Linked DNA regions of Homo sapiens: region 2 is linked to region 1. The links come from fine-mapping of genetic effects on gene expression. A gene starts in region 1. The other region holds a variant in brackets. All regions are shown on one strand. Distances are from middle to middle.

Region 1 (5,371 bases):
TAAGTTTATGCTAACTATGCAGTCCCCCAAAAAAATCTTAAATTATTTAATTTAGAGTGGTCGCAGGTTGGTAGTGTCCCCAGCAACTTACAGAAGTAAACGCAAATCTTTTCTGGAAGAACCCACCTTCAACCCAGGCCTCAAGGGATTCTCACAGATAAATGTTCAAGGAAAATGATTGGTTCACAGGTATGTGGCATGAGAGAAAATGCACCATGAGTGAGAACCAGCGGAAAGAATAGGCAGCAGAAACAGACTTAAAACATCTAGGAATTGTAATTATCTAACACAGAATATAAAATATCTGTCTTATACGTTTAAAGAAATAAGAAATTCTAAAATAGATAAGAAATTCAAGTCATTTGGGCTTGAATCAGAAAAAAAGAATCAAATAGAACTTCCAAAAATGAAAAATGAATATCATATTGCATTGACTATAAAACAGGATCAATTTTATAAGATGCACCATAATTTTATGTGCCACCTTAGCATTGCAAGATGCCACCAATTGTAAGATGTATCCTGATTTTAGCAGTGTTAAAAATGTGAAAAAAATAGGTTGCAGAATCAATGAACCGTAGCAATTGAAAGGTAAAACTTCACAGATCAATTAAATTGCAGATTAAACTCAGCCAATGAAGAATCAGGTAACTGGAATAAAGACAAAAATATTTTTTACTAATAAATTATCCAGAATGTAGCCCAGAGAGACCACACAATGGAAATATAGCAGAATGCTTATGAGTCTTGGGGGCTAGAATGAGGAGGTCCAGTCAAAAGTTCCAGATGAAGGTAATAGAGAGGAAAAGGGGCAATGTTTAAAAATATAATGGCTGAGAAATTTGGAAAATAATAGAAAGCGAGTGACACTCAGATACAGGAATTCAAATGATTCTCAAGCAAGACAAAACAAAAAAAATCCATACCTGGACTTACGATGATAAAACTGTGGAACATCAAAAGCAAAGAGAAGCTCTTCAAAGAAACCAGGAACAAAGAGAGGTCACCTTCTGAAGAACAGTAAGTCAACAAACATTACCTTTTAGCAGCAAAAATGGAAGCCAGAAGACTGTGGGATAATATTTTCAATGTGTTGAGAGGAAAACAGTAATCAACTTGGAATTTCTATCCCAAAAAACCCTTTCAAGAATGAGAGCAAAATAATTCTTTCTTTCTTTCTTTCTTTTTCTCTTTCTTTCTTTCTTTCTTCTTCTTTCTTTCTTTCTTCCTTCCTTCCTTCTTCTTTCTTCTTTTCTTTCTTTTTCTTTCCTTCTTTCTTCTCTTTCTTTCTTTCTTTCTTTCTCTTTTTTCTTTCTTCTTTCTTTATTCTTTTTTTTCCTTTCTTTCTCTTTCCCTCTCTCCTTTCTTTTTTTTTCTGTCTGTCCTTCCTTCCTTCCTTCCTTCCTCGCTCCCTCCCTCTCTCCCTCCCTCCCTCTCTTCCTCCCTCCCTCCCTTCCTTATTTCTTTTCTTTTTCTTTTTTTCTTTTTTTTTTTTTTGAGATAGGTTTTTGTTCTGTCACCCAGGCTGGAGTATGGTTCTCTGCAGCCTCAAAGTCCTGGGCTCAGTTGATCTGCTTGCTTGCTTCCCGAGTAGCTAGGACTACAGATGCGTGCCTCACCATGCCCAGCTAATTTTATTTTATTTTTGCAGAGATAGGGTCTCCCTGACTTGCCCAGGCTGGTCTCGGACTCCTGGGCTCAAGCGAACTCCTGGGCTCCTCCTGCCTTGGCCTCCCAAAGCACTGGGATTACAGATGTGAGCTGCCATACCTGGCCAAAAATTTTCAAATAAGTAAAAACAGAAACCTTAACTAAAGGAAGGTTTGAAAAGATAGATTTGAAGCAGAGGGAAGATGATTCTAGATACATGGTACATGCATCCAGTAGGAAAATCAAGAACACCAGCATTCTGAGAAGTTCTCTGAGGCAAAACTTGCTTACCACTTGGGTGTCTGTCTGGCTTTTCCTTCTTTTTGGGATCTATAGATTCTTATTTTTGTGCCAACCCAGCAATGGCTTTAGAAAGTTGTTACTAAAAATATTTTCTTCTGCATTTGAGTTCTTTCATTTGGGCAAGATTGCTTAGGTATCTAACCCACCCCACCTGCAGGAAATAAAAGTCCTCCAAAAAAATTTCTAATTTAGGGAAACTCTCCTTCAGTCTATGTGGAGCCCATGTTCCCCGTCCTCATGGTACAATGTGCCTTTCCCTTGTAACACAAACACCATCTATAGTTTTACACTTATCTGGAGTGAGATGGGCTACCATTATGTCTTGGGTTTACCAATTATCTTCATGCTATTTAAATTAATTTTCTACTTACGCCTTTAGAAATGTAAGGGCCAGATATGTGTTGCTTTCTATTTTGTTTCCAGACTTTAGCAAGTGCCTGGAACATAGCAGGTATTCAGAGGACATTTACTGAGTAAATGATTAGGTGAGTAATTAATTATAAGTGAAAAGCCAAAATGAGGTATTAGGTCAAGCATAGCTATGTGTCTCCGCTTCAAATCCAGCCATAAGCTGATAATTGCAGTTCATAAGTATGATAATTGGGTGCTCACGCATGCGTGTGTGAGATGTGTCACCCTCAAACCTTGTTATGACGTCAGCACATTACCCGTCTAACATGAACTTAGAAGAAGCAAAACCAAAAACAAATCCAGCCATTGGAGATGGTGCTTTCAGGGTTGGTGAATTCCCAGAGAACTCTGCTGTCCAATATGGTAGCCATTAGCCACATGTGGCTATTTAAATTTTATTTAAATTAATTAAAGTTAAATACAACTCCAAAATCAATATTCAACCACAATAGCCACATTTCAAGAGGTTAGTGGCTATCCTACTGGGGGGTGTGGACATAGAATATTTCCATTATCACAGAAAGTTCTATTGGAAGCTATGTCATAGAATTCTCAAAACTTCCTAACTGCTTCTCTCTCTCTCTTTTACTCTTATTCTTTCTCTCTCACTCTCTCTCTTTTCCCACCCTTAAGCCAAGTACAGGGATAGTTGTCTCATCATTGGTGGCTTAAAATGATGTTTTTGAACAAGAAGACGCCCCATGGGTACTTTTGGTGACTAGCACTATCTCTGTTTTTTTCCTTTTAAATTCCTGAGCTATTGTTTAGCAGTACACCCTTTTATCTCCATTGCTACTGAAGCTGAATGTTACTTGGGTGGAAAGCATAACTGCTTTCTTTTCTATGTCCTTAAACCCTTTGATAATGTTACTGTTTGAGAGTCCCTGAAGCCAGGATACTAGAAGAGTCTGGCTTGTCTGAACAGCTGAACTACGAAATAATGGAGTAGGGCAGGTGGGTGGGGGAGCAGGGCGTTCTGTCGATAAACGAGCTCCCTTCTTTGCACACATAGCCAGTTAATCGGCCATTCTGAGATAGTTTGGATGGGGAGGGGGAGCTTCTGAGAATCGCCAGTGACAGTTAAGTGGCCTATTGTTGACGTCCTCTGCTGAACGACTTGGTTGGATTCAGCTTCTGCCTTACCCCCACCCCCTGTGGATTTTCTGTTAGATTCATCATTTGCCATTCAGGCATCATCTTTCACTTTCTCCTTCCAACATGACTGCTTTGTGTGCTGGCCCCTGCTTTACTCCTGCTATTCCCAAACTATAAAGGGAACTGTGTGGGGCTTCAGCAGGACTGAGAAATTGACTCTGCTGTCTGTTGAGAACTCTAATAATGACTGCGGTGACCTTCATGTCTAGCAGAAAACCCACTGTCTGTGCTAGCACAATGATGACCACCTGAAGACAGAGAAAAGGGAATCTTGATTGAATTCCTTCTCATACAATATATAGTTATTTCCTTTGTTCTCCTCTCCATTCTCTTCTCTTCCCCTTCTCCCCATCGCCACTGGAGGACTGATCTCAAATGCAGCTGTGACTAAAAGTTAATGCCTTTTGAATAATAATACATTGCATTTTGCAGGCTTTACCAAGCCAATTCACTCAAGTTGTCTCATCTATACCCCTTCAAACCCTGTGAGGTAGGGAGGGGAGGTATGATTAACCCCATTTGATGGATGAGTAAACTGAGATTTAGAGATTAGGGCAGCTGCCCCAGATATTTTAGACGGGAAGTGAGCACCCAGTCTCTGTCTCTAAGTCCAGCGGTGTTTCAATGGCATCCACACCTTATGTGTAAGGAGGATATGGCCCAGGGAAAGCATGAGTGGGCTAGGCGGAGAAGAAGAGCGAAAGAGAAGATGCTGTAGAGGAGGGAGGAAAGGAGGGGTATCCCAGGGCTGCTGGCTACTTTGGTCTTTCTCCAGAGATGGAAGCTTTGATGCTCACAAGGGGCTGCCCTGGCAAACCTCCTGAGAGAAAAGAAAAGCTAAGGCCTGTCTTCCTCCTTCTCTCTTCCCTCTCCCCTTCCCAGGAGAGGATGTGCTGGGTTGGGGAGGGGCAGCCCTAGCTCTCCCAAGGCCTGGCATGTGGGAGCCACATGCTGGGTGCCCCAGACAGCCTAATGCTCTTTCTCAGGCTGGGCTTTCCAGCCTCTAGGTGCTGTGCTGTCCTGAGGCCTGGGCCATGGTGCCCAAGGAAAGCCCCTGAAGCTCACCAGGAGGAAGAAGCATGCAGGGCACCCCTGGAGGCGGGACGCGCCCTGGGCCATCCCCCGTGGACAGGCGGACACTCCTGGTCTTCAGCTTTATCCTGGCAGCAGCTTTGGGCCAAATGAATTTCACAGGGTGAGTGGCTGCTCCACAGTGGGAGGGAGGACTGGCTGGGAGGAGGGGACTGGGTGTCCCAGCAGGAGGTGGCTGCCCTGCTGGTGCCTGATCAAGGCGGAGAGTCAGGATGTGGGTTCCTGTCCTGAACCCACTTCCAGCTCCACAGCCTCCCACTTTCATGCTCCGGGGCTGGCTCGTTGGTGGTCCTCCCCAAATCCAGAGTTCTTAATCCAGAGTCCAGGAGGAAGCCCCCGGGGCTCCAAGAATCCCCTGAAACCACATGCAACAGTTTTCCTATACAACAGGGGCTTCTTCGGGGAGGATGCATTCATAGCTTTCCTCCGATTCTCAGAGAAGTTGTAGCCCCCACAAGACTACATACCCCTACCAAAAATGGATGTGGGTGTCGTTCTCCTTCGAATGACAGGAAGTTCTAGTATTACACGCCAGGCCCTCTGTGGATGTACTTTGAGCCTCTCCAAGGTCCACAGGTGGATGCCCCACAGTGCTCCACAGTAGAGAAGAGGAGACACAGCGAGCGTAGAGATGGGGTTCCTCACCCACGGTCTCAGAGCCAGCCTGTGAGGGCACCAACCCCATCCCAGGTGTCGCACCCCAGAGCCCACACCACAGGCCTCTTGGATACGCAACCTCCACTCACCTCCATCGGGAAGG
Region 2 (5,371 bases), 25 kb after region 1:
AAGCAGAGGAGGAGCAGAAGAGGAAGACAGAGATGGGGCGAAGGCAAAGAGTCCAGGGGGAAATGGAAACAAATGAAACTTGGGAAAAGAATAAAAGCCCTGCTCCTCTTTGTTCTCTCCCTCATCTTAAGTCCCCAAGAAGAATTTTCAAAGACTTCTTTGCACCTCTGGCTCCCAGAACAGCCTCAGGCAACTATGGGGAACTATTCTCCCGTATTGGTTTCCCATATCCCCAGACCCCAAGTTCATGGCGCACCTGGGGCCATGGCTGTGGCAAAGCTTCAGCTGACACCGAGTCTGAGCCCTCAACTGATGGCACACCCAGGAACGGTCAGCCTAAAGGCATTTGCTGCTCACTAGGGGAAGCCAGGGTTGGGGCAGAGACTTACAGTTTCCTCTGGATGCAACTTCTGAGCCAGGCCCACCTTCCTAAAGGGACCACAGGACAAGCCGAGGGGGCTCCCTGCAGGGCTTCAGAACTGCAGGGTATGGTGCGGCTGCAGTCCTCTGACATATTAGATTAGAGGATGCAGCAGTAACAAATATCCATCCCAATCTCAGTGGTTTAACACAATGAAAGTTTGTTTTTCATGCACACAAAGTCCAACATGAACAGGTGACTCTCCTTGGCGGCTTTCTTCCGCAGTGAGAGAGGGATCCAGGAGGCTGTTTCTATCTAGAATTTTTTTTTTTTGCTTCCAGCCACACAGACAGAAAAGAGCATGGAGAAGTCACACTTGCTCTTAACAATCTCAACCCAGAAGTGCCGTGTCATTTCTGCTCACCTTTCCATTGGTCAAAGTAGTCACATGACCTCAGTCATACTGCAAAGGAGGCTGGGAAATGTAGGGGAACACACAGGTATTTTGTGAGCACCGTCTGTGTCGCACGTGGGGATTTGACTCTTTGGGTGGCTTTATTTTACTTCCAGGAAATGGTTCTAACAGCAACCCCTGCTCAGAAACTTATCACGGGCCCTCCCCTCAGTCGGAGCCGGAGGTGGCTGCCATAGTGAACTTCATCACAGCCCATGGCAACTTCAAGGCTCTGATCTCCATCCACAGCTACTCTCAGATGCTTATGTACCCTTACGGCCGATTGCTGGAGCCCGTTTCAAATCAGAGGGAGTTGGTGAGACTGGCTGCTTAGGGCCTGGGGAGAAGAGACCGCTTCACAGGAAAATCCATATCTGTCATACTCCCAGAGGGCTCAGGTTGTTACTCTGAATGCAGGGGTCTGGGCTGATTGACCCCATGGTGCGGGGGTGGGGTAGGGGGAGCTTGCTGTTCTCACGTGTGATCAAGTTCAAAGCTGGAAATGCTGTGCTCCCTTCTCACAAGGGCCATCTCCACCTTCAACTTCCAGGACTGCTAAATCCATGCTTCTCACCAGCTGGTGAGGGTGGGGGAGTGTGTGGGAGCCCCGGGGAGCCCCTGCCTTTCACCCCGCCAATGTCATCTTGCAGTACGATCTTGCCAAGGATGCGGTGGAGGCCTTGTATAAGGTCCATGGGATCGAGTACATTTTTGGCAGCATCAGCACCACCCTCTGTGAGTGAGCCTCCCCTGGCCCTGCTTCAGACACCACATCTACCTGGGGCTGGCTGCAGGGCAGTGCCAAGGATCTAGCTGTGCTGGCCCAAAGCTGCCTCCCACACTGGATAGAAGGGTGAACAGTGGTACCCAGGGAGCTGTTTCTTGGCAGCTTTTGTGCACAGCTCCCAGTGCCTGGCTTACTGCAAGGTTCCTAAGCCTAGTAGCCTGCAGGAGCTTTCTTTTTGCAGGAGTAGAGAATGGGCTGGGTGCACAGATGTGATCCTGTTTGAGGCCTGGGCAGGAAGCCTGGTGTGGCCTGGGGTGGGTGGGGGTTTGGCTCCCAGGGCTCACTTTCCACCCAGGATGCCTCTGTACCTTGCAGCCACATCCCCTTCTTCCTTTTGTGGGGCACATTTTGGAACTTTTGTTTCTAGATGTGGCC[A/G]GTGGGATCACCGTCGACTGGGCCTATGACAGTGGCATCAAGTACGCCTTCAGCTTTGAGCTCCGGGACACTGGGCAGTATGGCTTCCTGCTGCCGGCCACACAGATCATCCCCACGGCCCAGGAGACGTGGATGGCGCTTCGGACCATCATGGAGCACACCCTGAATCACCCCTACTAGCAGCACGACTGAGGGCAGGAGGCTCCATCCTTCTCCCCAAGGTCTGTGGCTCCTCCCGAAACCCAAGTTATGCATCCCCATCCCCATGCCCTCATCCCGACCTCTTAGAAAATAAATACAAGTTTGAACAGGCTTCGCTGCCTCTCGTGTTGGCTACCACCCCTATGGGCTCAGCACTGACAAGGGGACGAGAGGCTGCTTCTCATTCCGCAGGGGAGCCTGAAATGTGGGGGAAGCCTCTGCACTCTCCAGTCTACCTTCAGGAAAATAAGGGGGTAGAGGCTGTAGCTTTTCTCCTCTTGCAGTGTTTTCAGGGCCCGGAACACAGAAGGCACACATTGTCCCAGCATATTTACATTTTAAGATGCTCCTGGAGGGGACAATGTTTGCTCTAAAAGAGCATTTCTGATGGGGGCATTTCTGCCACCTTGAGGGAAAGGTTGGCCCAGACAGGCCACCTCTGCCTCGGTTGGCTTCACTTCCCATGCAGGGAGGGAGCAGGAGCACATTTTGGAGGTTACCACTCACCCCACAACCCAACACGAATGAGTCATTGGCTTATGACCTGCTCCCCCCGAGGTGTCCTCAAAGGCTCCCTGGGTCTTGGGAACACAGGGTCAGAGCTAGTCAGAGCCAGCACATCAAAGCACCGCATATCCAGGAAGAAGAGCTTCTCATCATCATCATCAGCGACACCATCCTGGTTGTCATCCCTGAGCTGTGTTAAGTAGGCACTTCCCCTAAGAGAGTTAAAGGGGCACTCGTGAGATACTAAGAAGACTCCTTCCCCCAGCCCCAGGCCTCCTTGTACCTTTTGCCTCTTCATTCTGTCTGCTGCCTTCTGGGAAATGATGGGACTGGCAGGCTGTACTATGCAGCAGGGATAGCAGGGCTGTTTGCTCTGCCCTCAGGAAGGCAGATAACCCCTAGAAACAGGAAGAGCCAAATGAGGTTGTGTAAGTCTGAGGCAGAAACATTAGTCGTGAGAGCAAGACTTGCATTTGCAAGAGCCAGGCTGTGTGTGTGTTTGTGTGTGTGCGTGTGTGTGTGTGCATGTGTGTGCACGTGTGTGCATGTGCGTGTGTGTGTCCGTGTGTGTGTGTGTAAAACTGGATGGCCAAGAGCCAACCCCTGGAGGGCACGGAGACAGGGAAGAAAACAGAGTGAAACAAAAATATTTGTGTAGAAGGCATAAAAGTTATCATCACAGACTCCACTGTGTAAAGGCATAACTTGCTTTATTTATCTCTAGTGTATATGAACTTAGCCTCCCTTTCCATTCAGCCTGTGAAAGGAGATAGTGCTTGGGCCATTTGGTAGAAGAAGGGGATGGGAGATGATCAAAACCCCAAGTAAGGTTCATATCCAATATAGTGTCTAAGCAGCAAATGACTAATGGCCGAAGAAGGAGACTAGACAGAGGATTAGAGGCAGCCATGGGGCTGGTGCAGCTGTGGAGAGCTCTGAGCAAAGAAACAAGGTTGGCAGGTGAGGAGGCCTAGGATAGAGGCCAGAAGGCCAAACCTGGGGCTGTGCAGCCAGTGGTCATGGTGGCACAGCAGGCACTGGCTGGGCATTGGCTGGGCATGCAGATGCCCAAGGCCAGCTGTGCCACATAGAAGCCCTGAGGAAGTGAGGGTAATTAACCCCTGAACAACCCAGATCATCTTCAGGGGAACAGCCAGCAGCAGAGGAGGAGAAAATCTTGACTTTGGCTGAAGTTTCCCACAGGAGACTTTTTTTTTTTAAAGCTGGAATTGGTCTGAGTGAGCTAGAATTTCCAACCCAAAGTTTTCTGCTGCTAGTGGAAATTCGAGGTCATGGGCTAAGTTAATATAAGCTAGAGGTAAATAAAGCCAGTTATACCTTTGCACAGTGGAGTCTGTGATTATAACTTTTATGCTGTCGATACAAATATTTTTATTTTTATTTCATCCTCTTGGGGAGGGTATTCCTGGTATTAATAAGTTCATTGTTTTAGATAAGGAAAGCAAGGTTCGGAGATGTTTCAAAAGCCATACAAGGCCACAATGGAGAGAAAATTGTTGAGAAAGATTTGAACTTGGGTTTGTCAAACTCCAAAACCACTGTCACCATTTGTCCAAGTGCAGCCGGTGGCCCATCTGCAGCAGAATCCGTGGAGACTTGTTTAACAGGAAGGGATTTGGTTCCATCTCCAGACCGAATTAGAATATCTGGGGGCAGACACCCCAAATCTGCATTTTTACCAACTGCCCAAGGAGTTCTGAGGTATCTTCAAATACCCACTGACCCCTGTTCCCCTGCCTCCCGGGAAGAATATATTCCAGTCTTCCGGGGGGAGTTGGGCCTTGGGTCTCCCCACTCTGCCATTGTCCACTGGGGCTGGAGGTGGCTGCCACAGAGGGAGGCCAGTCATTCTCTAGAGTACTTCCTGGGGGCTGCCTTGGCCCTAGCCTAAAGCAGTGTGGTCTGCAGACCACAGGCATCACATCACCTGGGAGCTTAGTCCCAGCCCTACTAAATCCAAGTCTCTAGTGGGTGGGGCCTAGGAGATTTGAATGCCAAATTGGACAAGAACTGGCCTAGGGGCAGGAGGCCTTGGGCTCTGATGAGCTTCCCAAGCCGAAATAAACTCTTTTCTAGCACTTACAATGTGCCAGGCACGGTGCCAAGTGCATTAGGGGTTTCAACATGTCGCCTCCTCACAGCTCTCAGAGGCAGGACTATTACTGTCCTTATTTTCAGCCAAGGAGGTGACTCAGGCTCAGACAGGATGGTTGCTGAAAGGCACACAGGTCCTGAGTGGCAGGGTTTGGGCTGACCTGCAGGCTGGTAGCTCATCATCTGCCTTCAGAACCTGAACCCAACTCACGGCCAAGGCTCTGCAGGATCAGGGATGAGGAACTTGTTCTCACAGCCAGCTTGGCCAGATCTCTGTACAGCCATTAAGCTCACAAAAGTTGAGGCTGAAACTGCTGTCCAGATGGAGGTCTTCTTTTTTTTTTTTTGAGACGGAGTTTTGTTCTTGTTGCCCATGGTGCGATCTTGGCTCACCACAACCTCTGCCTCCCGGGTTCAAGTGATTCTCCTGCCTCAGCCTCCCGAGTAGCTGGGATTACAGGCATGTGCCACCACGCCTGGCTAATTTTGTATTTTTAGTAGAGACAGGGTTTCTCCATGTTGGTCAGGCTGGTTTCGAACTCCTGACCTCATGTGATCTGACTTCCTTGGC

The links.
Region 2: its variant is fine-mapped to the expression of CPA5 in whole blood (TOPMed, PIP above 0.99).

What each region holds. Positions count from the first base shown.
Region 1 is chr7:130,341,888-130,347,258 of GRCh38, forward strand. It overlaps CPA5 (carboxypeptidase A5), which reads left to right and starts at 2,929. Exons shown (of 13, transcript NM_080385.5): 1 at 2,929-3,318; 2 at 3,952-4,009; 3 at 4,506-4,714. The coding sequence starts at 4,599. All of the region lies in intron 1 of LOC105375503 (a long non-coding RNA gene), which reads right to left. LOC124901837 (small nucleolar RNA U13) reads left to right here and starts at 2,528; the gene lies at 2,528-2,631. RefSeq lists an enhancer at 4,121-5,090.
Region 2 is chr7:130,366,441-130,371,811 of GRCh38, forward strand. CPA5 (carboxypeptidase A5) reads left to right here. Exons shown (of 13, transcript NM_080385.5): 11 at 932-1,131; 12 at 1,466-1,550; 13 at 1,970-2,290. The coding sequence ends at 2,157. It overlaps LOC105375504 (a long non-coding RNA gene), which reads right to left and starts at 687. Exons shown (of 2, transcript NR_133928.1): 1 at 390-687. The variant A/G (reference allele first, on the strand shown) is at 1,978.